Linked DNA regions of Homo sapiens. The protein of the gene in region 2 interacts with the protein of the main gene of each other region in a pairwise test. Each region holds a gene or a part of one and is shown on either strand. Other genes may lie near its edges. The genes, in order: PRSS23 and EFNA3.

Evidence for each region.
Region 1: the proteins of EFNA3 (region 2) and PRSS23 interact in a two-hybrid assay, tested with the Homo sapiens proteins (one large-scale study listed by BioGRID and IntAct).

Annotation. Positions count from the first base shown.
Region 1 is NC_000011.10:86,806,965-86,810,771, reverse strand, and holds part of PRSS23 (serine protease 23 precursor), read right to left. Parts: intron 3,142-3,807; 5' UTR 3,129-3,141; coding exon 1,977-3,128; 3' UTR 1-1,976.
Region 2 is NC_000001.11:155,077,653-155,081,943, reverse strand, and holds the start of EFNA3 (ephrin-A3 precursor), read right to left. Parts: upstream 3,108-4,291; 5' UTR 3,003-3,107; coding exon 2,875-3,002; intron 1-2,874. UniProt on the Homo sapiens protein: Cell surface GPI-bound ligand for Eph receptors, a family of receptor tyrosine kinases which are crucial for migration, repulsion and adhesion during neuronal, vascular and epithelial development.

The DNA.
Region 1 (3,807 bases), on a different chromosome or scaffold from region 2:
AGTAAATTACATCTACTTGTGAACTAAACATTGATTTCATTTTGACTTTGTGCCATTGTCTAACTTTGCAAAAAATCAAAATCAAGGAATCAAGGTGCTTCACAAAAGGAACATCTATTTTTTTAAAAAAATCCATTCTGGTCTTGGTGTTCAGTGAACTTTTTTTCACCAAGCTAAAGCAAAAACAAACAAAACCCCCAAATACCAGACATAGAAATGGAGACCTCCCTTCTTCCTCAGGCTAGATTCCTGTTAGATTCCAAAGAAAATTGTGCTGGAACTCAGAATTTTCCTGGCGGCTCTGCATCTCCTTGCTATGCATAGTATTTCTCATATGATTTGAAGAAAGCACTGTGGTTGTACGTTTCTTGAGTGCCTTATCAGAATTATCCTTCCAAAAAGCTCAAGAAAGACAAGCAGAAAATCCCCCAGAGAATGTCTAAGTGACAGTGCTCCATCTGAATATCCTTACAAATTGCTACAATGCAGGTTTACCTGGGGTGCAAGCACAGCAAACACGTGCTTGTAGTCCATTTGATTTTTTCTCCGATACATTTAGAAAGAAGTGCTTAGGCCGAGAGCCATAAAATAAAAACATACAATAAGTCCAAGTCTTTTCTGTATATGCTGTGATTTGATAATCATATTGATAAAACATGTGTAAAGGCCTTTATTGGAAGGCATGATTCTGATCCATTTTGCATTCTTCCAATTTTCATTTTTGCTATTATACCTAATTGTTTATCTATAACCTAGAGCATTCCAGCAAAAGCGGCCCTTTTAAAGCTAGAGGGAAAAAGGCCACACTGGTTTTCTTAAAGTAACTTCCAAGTATTTTCACTATAAATGAGAGAGAAAAGTTTCCAAATTGAAGAAGTACATAGCTCCCAGAAAGCACACTGAAAACTATGCAGAATAATTTTTGATCAGGCTGGAGGACTGTGCCAGGCTCCAAACAAGTGGTTATTCTGTTGTGACATCTGCCAGGCAATGCTTCCATTGTTCTCTGGAATTTAATTCATTTTAAATTACTCCATCCAAATGATAAAACATGAGATGTGCTATAATCCAGGGGTAAAATGCTATGATTGTTTTTAGTGTGGCCACAACTGTTTGCTGGGAGGAAATACAGCCTGTTCTAATTAAGCCCTGATTATTGTCTTCTGAAAAATAGCTAGTTCCAGAAATGTGAGTGAAATCCTGTTAAATGGAAGGGTTGGGATAAACACTCTTGGCCACTCTGGTATGACTTTAAAGTTGGGAGGGCCATATGCAAAGACTTCCTACAAAGTAGAGCAACAACCTTTGGAAAAGAAACTATTTTTGGAACTAAAAGCAGCTTGGGATACTGGTTTACTATAAGGTATAGTTTAATATGTGTATCAGTATAGTCAACACATCATTTTACTGTTCAAAGACTACCATGCAAATGCCTCCAAATCCAAAATATTCTGCCTAACAAATGCTGTCAAAGTTCCTAAATGGGAACACTGCCTTATGGAAGCATTAAAGATCAGGCACTGAATTAAAAAAACAAAAAAACCCACCACCAAGATGAATCTCAGAAGAAAACACACATGCACACATATAAGAATTCATATCTCTTGTATGCCAAATATTTAATATAAATCTTTGAAACAAGTTCAGATGAAATAAAAATCAAAGTTTGCAAAAACGTGAAGATTAACTTAATTGTCAAATATTCCTCATTGCCCCAAATCAGTATTTTTTTTATTTCTATGCAAAAGTATGCCTTCAAACTGCTTAAATGATATATGATATGATACACAAACCAGTTTTCAAATAGTAAAGCCAGTCATCTTGCAATTGTAAGAAATAGGTAAAAGATTATAAGACACCTTACACACACACACACACACACACACACGTGTGCACGCCAATGACAAAAAACAATTTGGCCTCTCCTAAAATAAGAACATGAAGACCCTTAATTGCTGCCAGGAGGGAACACTGTGTCACCCCTCCCTACAATCCAGGTAGTTTCCTTTAATCCAATAGCAAATCTGGGCATATTTGAGAGGAGTGATTCTGACAGCCACGTTGAAATCCTGTGGGGAACCATTCATGTCCACCCACTGGTGCCCTGAAAAAATGCCAATAATTTTTCGCTCCCACTTCTGCTGCTGTCTCTTCCACATCCTCACATAGACCCCAGACCCGCTGGCCCCTGGCTGGGCATCGCATTGCTGGTAGAGCAAGTCATAGGTCTCGTCTTTGACGTCACAGAAGCGATACACCAAATTGCCTGGTCGGTCATTGTCATAACCAGAGAAGTGAATTCTGCCCCCTGGCAGCTGCTTAGCAGGAGGGCTCACCCCAATCTTCATAAATTTTCTCTTGTGGGGCTTTTTGAGTTCCAGGAGGGCATAATCATAATCCATGCCGATGTCATTGGCATTGCCCTTGATCCAACCCTTGGGCACATGGGTGCGTTTCACCCGGATCCACTGAAATTTCATCTGCTCGGGCATGGCTGAAGTGGAGTCGTTGGCCCCTCGACCACCATCTTTAAACTTGGGCTTTAGGAAGCCCACTCGAAGCTTCTGGGTTCCTTTCACATAGGTTTTTCCATCGTGTATGCAGTGGGCAGCTGTGAGGACATGCTTCTCTGCCACCAGGGTGCCGGTGCAGCCCGTGGATAACTTCACTGATGTTGAGAAAGGGTAGTTGAGCAGGAAGTCCTTCCCAAAAATGCTGAACCTGCTGTCATAGCCATAAATCTGCCGCTTCCTTCGAGACTTTCCTGAAGACCCTGAGTCTCGGTGTTGGGCCCCATCTCCACTACTGCTGAGGATGTAGATGCCCACCTGCGTCTCTGTGCGGCTGCCATTGGCATAGAGCGTTTCATAAGACAGATATTGCTTGGCCTCTTCGTAAGTGGGCAGTGGAGTTCCCTTATGACACTGGGGTCCACATGAAGAAGATACTTCTAATTTGGCTTCGGCTCCAAAGTCTGGCTTGGCTAAATTGAGGGTAGACTGGGGCAAGACGACAGGGAGGCGGTATGCAGGCCAAGTGGGTTTCCAGGGGGCACTGTAAGGGCTCACTTGCCCAACAGCACAGAGCAGAAAGAAGAGAAGGAAGAGGAGCCCTGGAATCCCTGCCATGCCGAGCACTGTTCTGTAGAAACAAAGACAAGCAGGTCAGGAGGGCAAGGGCTGAACGTTCATTTACTGCAGACAGCAAAGCTCAGCAGCAGGCCTGTCATTGTTTCTGAGTCTTTGAACACTCCTCAGGAATCAGGGTGTGGAGAGGAATCCTTAGATAACGGTCTCACTTTCAACGCAAAGGCTCAACCTTAGGAAAGTTCCTGTGGCTGGGTGCCTGAAGTGAAATTGGGTGTTCCTTCCTTTCTATGTTTAAGATGTCCCTAATGATGGTAGACTGCAGAGTAGCAGGCATAAAGTCATTAGTCCCCTGGCTAACTGACTGACCAGCCCCAATTTCCACGTAATTTTGAGCCCTCTTTGTGCTTGATTCTAAACCTCCTCCTCTTCTACCTTCATGATGTCCCCGCCTTTCCCTCCTCCTTCTCTCATTCTCATTGTAACATGTACTTGGAAAATTTTCAGAGCAACTTGGTCACTCAGAGGGTCAATTTAAATTACATGGCTTACTGAGTGACTGAGACATCAAAGAAGGACAGCTCCACAGTGTCACAATTACCACCACTCCTGTGGTTTTTAAATGATGGTGCACTCGAGAAAGGGTATGAGATTTTTTGTTTTGTTTTGTTTTTTGCTTTGAATTTACAACAACCTTTACTATTATATATATTGAGTTCCA
Region 2 (4,291 bases):
CGGCGGCGGCGGCGAAGGTTTATTGATCTGCAGCGGCGGAGAGGAGCGAGAGACCTGCCGAAAGCGAGACACAGAGACGGAGTGAGGGGGAGACACACACCGACAAGGGGAGGGTGGCAGAGGCCGGATTCACTGAAAGGGGAAAGGAAGGGAGACACAGTGCGAGAGAGACGCAGAAACCGAGAGAGGCAGGGAAGAGAACGAGAACCGAGAGTCTTGGAGAACAGGAGAGACAGGCAGGCCAGAGAGGCCCACAGACGGCGGAGACGGAGACAGAGACGCAAAGGAGAGAAGCAGGGACAGGGAAGGGTGCAAGGCTGAGACTCAGAGACTGGGAGAAAACACAGAGAAAGACCATCAGGGACGTAGTAGAGCCTCAATAAATATTTGTTGAATGAATGCATGAATGAAAGAGAGATCAGCAACAGAAGCATTTCAGAGATAGGTCGAGAGACAGCTATATAGAAAGATGTTCCCGAAGCTCCTTGAGAACGGAGCAAATACCAACATCCTTGCTCAGTTCTGCAAAGAAATGAAACACAGGCCAGGGGGCATATATTTGGCCATCGGCCGTCCCAACCCCCCTCACCAAGTTCGATTCCCGGCTTAGGGGACTCCTCGACCTCATACTCTAATGCATCGCTCCAATACAGTCCCCCCATCCCTAGTTTCTGGGCCAGATTGGGAACAGGTCTCTCCTGTTCCACGGGACTAAATGGAAGTACTGAGTGGGGGGCAGAGGGCTAGGTCGCGGCCGGTGTGCAAGGCACAGTCCCCAGGTCTGTCAAAGGAGGCCGACGCACGTGACCCCCCCAGGAGGCGGGGTCGCAAGACCCTCCCCACGTGACCCCAAGGGGCAGAGACCCTCCGCACGTGACGGGAGGTGGGAGCCAGGAGCCCAGCTCACGTGACTAGGGGGAGGGGGCGCGGGAGCCTGTGGCTCGGTCGGCCCCGCCCCCAGCTCCCCGGCCCTCTCCATTCTCGGCTCCGGAGCACGTCGCTCTCACGATTTATGGGGCCGCGGCTGCCGCAGTGAGGGAGCCGGGGAGCCCGGGCGCAGCGGCAACAAAGGCCCGGGAAGCGAGGCGGGGGCGGCGGCAGCCTCCTGGCCCGGTGTGCGCCCCCTCCTACCTCTGCCGGCCCAGGCCCGCACGGAGTAGAGAGGACAGAAAGGAGGCTCCCGGAACCCGGGCTCCCCCACCCGCTCCCTGAGCTTTCACCTGCGCCCAGGTGTATGCGGGGGAGGGGAACCTGATCAACACCTCCCCCCACCAAACCTATTCCCGCATCCTCCCCGGCTCTGGCTTCCCCTAAGAACGCTGAGGTGCTCCAAGGGTGGCGGGGAACCCGGGGCCCCTCACCTGCGAGCTCTCCGTTCCCCGCCAGACTCTAGCGGGGTGGGGGGCGGACGTGTGAGTCTGGGGGAGGGGGCTGAGCTAGATAGAGCTGGAAAGTCAGCCCCCAGCGCCCCCCGGAGTTCTTGGAGTCCCGCTCCGGGGGGGAGGGGCCACGTCCCCACCCCCGAGGTTTCCATGGGAAGCGAGAGGGGGGCGTCGTTGGCTCATCCCCACCCCCAGTCTGACACTCCGGGCGCGAGGAGGGAGAGAGGGGGAGGCGCGGAGCCCCAAACAACAAAGAGCGGAGCGGCGAGCGGCAGCCCCTCCTCCGAGAGGTTGGGGGTCGCGGCCGCCCGGCCCTCCCGGTCCCCTCCCCTGGGGTCTGGCCATTTGCTCCCTGGTCGGTCGGTCCCTGGGGTGGGCAGCCAGAGGCAGTGCTGCCGCCACCGCCCGGGCAGGTGTGACAGTGACCCCCGCGTCCCCAGGGATCTCCCCCTACTAACACACAGACACACACTGATGTGGCCAGGGAGATACACACGGCGGCTTGGCGGGGAGGAGAAGACAAGGGCAGCAAGGACTGAGCAGAATGAGGACCCGGCCCCGCAGCCAGCACCCGGCCACCGCGCCACACACCCCGGGAAACCACACGGCCGCCCTGACACCCGCCCAGACCGCGGCGGCGCCAACAGCCACCCCAGCCCAGACGCAGCTGGCCGCGCGGACAGCGACCGCAGCCCCTTCCCCGACCCGCAGCCCGCTCCCACCCCCAGACGATCGCCGACGCAGACACACAAATCACACACTCAGACACACACGCACACTGACAGCCGCGCACGCCCGCTCACACTTGGAGCCATTCGCCGTCCCCAGCCCGGGCGTGTGTGTGCGTGTGTGACACACCGACATCTCTCTGCCGCCTTCCGTCTCGCCGGTACCCCACGTTCCCATCCTAACCAAGCAGCATTCCCAGGGCCCCCCAACTCAGCGACCCAGCCCTAGCTCACCCTAGCCGGGCTTATCCACACAACCAAGACAACCCATTCGCCTTCCTTCTAGGGAGGTGCTCGGTCGGACTCCCTGCCTCAGCTCTGGACCCCACTTTTAAAAGCAGGAGTCCTAGACAGAACCCCTGGAAGCCCTCATGGCCAAAAACAGGTCATCCCTGGGCCCCAAAATGCAGCGGCCTATCCCCAGCACAGCGCTACCCCCAAACCCCAGCCCAACTGGTGGGACTATGGGACAGGGGCATGCTATTCCAGCGGCGGGTGCGGAGAGAAGCCAAGATGGGGTGGGGGGCCCCTCCAGCAGCCTCCTCCACACGGCCCGAGCGCTCCTTACTATAGCCCAACAGCCTCTTCAGACACCCCCGAGTTTCCTAGACGCCCACAGAGTGCGTCCCCCTCTCCGTCCCCTCCCAGCCCCCAGCTCTGGTCTCCCAGGACTCCCACCCCGGGATCCCCCAGGACTTCTCGGGCCCACCGGCTCCCCCTCTCACTGAGACGGGACGCGCGGACTCCCAGGGTCCCCGACTCACTGCTGGTTGGAGCTGTTCCAGTACACCGCATGCCGGTTTCCCAGCGCCCCTCCGGGCCCTTGGGCCAGCAGCGGCAGCAGCGGCACGGGCACGAGCAGCAGCAGCAGCAGCAGCGGAGCCGCCGCCATCCCCGGAGCCGCCGCCGCCGCCGCCCCCCGACTGAGCCCCGCGCTCCCGGCTTCTCCGCTTCCCAGCTCCCTGCTGCCGCCGCCGTCGGCCCCCAGCCTTAGGCCACGCCCCCAGCCCTTCCCTCCGCCCTCCTGGGCGCGCCCCCGAAGCCCCGCCCCTGGCGCGCCCCCGACAGGCCCCGTCCCGCTCCGGTCGGGAGCGCGCGACGCGTGGGAGGTGGGGACCGTACTGCCCCCTCGGGAAAGACCAGCGCGTGCCTCGTCTCTCCTTCTTGAGTTCAGTTTGCTACAACTGGTCCTGGGTCTTTTGCTCCCCAGGCTGAATTTCCCAGAAGGATTTGGGAACCCAAGATAAGGATCTCGATCTCAGGGAAGCCCAATCATCTCTGGGAATGAGGGGAAGGAGAAGACTTGAGAAGAAGTTGGGGATCCAGGACCTCTTAGTAAGTAGGGCTGGACCCCTTCCCTTCTGAAAACTGTGGCCCTCTGCTGCGTCCATGCCCCCTTTTCCCGTGTGCATGAGGACTCAGGTGGGCACAGAAGGGTGGTGGAGAAGTCCTCAGCTGGCACCAAGGCTTTGACAGCTGGTGACCTGAAGCCCCCAGCTGAGCATGAGGCTTGTTTATCTTGGAGGCAGAGTAAAAGAGCTCAGCCCCTGAGAATGTCAATACTGGGAGCTGTAAGAGTCTTCAGTGGTCCAGAACCCAAGGCGCAGGAGGGGGTCAAGGAGAGAGTCAGCTGGGGCAAAGCAGGGTTCCCTGGACACCTACAAAGGATTCCTCACTGGCACTTAGGCAGGGCCCCTCCCGGGGCAGCCAGGGTTGTCCCCAGGGATTCTCACTCCTACTCTCAGAGACGCTGATCCTGAGTCAGAGGGCAGAGCACCTTGTGTTCCAGCTCTCACCACAGTCATTGTCCTCACAGTGACACCCAAGCACACACATCACACACACACATTCAGGAAAAAAGGCACAGTCACCCAAAGGCAGAGAACATAGAGACACAGGTGCCTGACACAGACATATGGACACACAGGTACACCTTCCAGACACACATAGGAAAGGGTACTATCAGACTGCTAGAGATCAGGCACAGAGACACCCAAGCACACACCTATATCCATCCACACACAACACACACACAAACCCACATGCATCCTGACACACACAGTTCCTTGCTCTCCTCTTCTCTCTTTCTAGGAAGTAGAAGTTCAGGAAAAGGGTTCAGAAACCAGACCTAGGGCTATCTGTCCCTTATCTCTTCTCTTTTGGAGAGGCCCAGACCAGGCG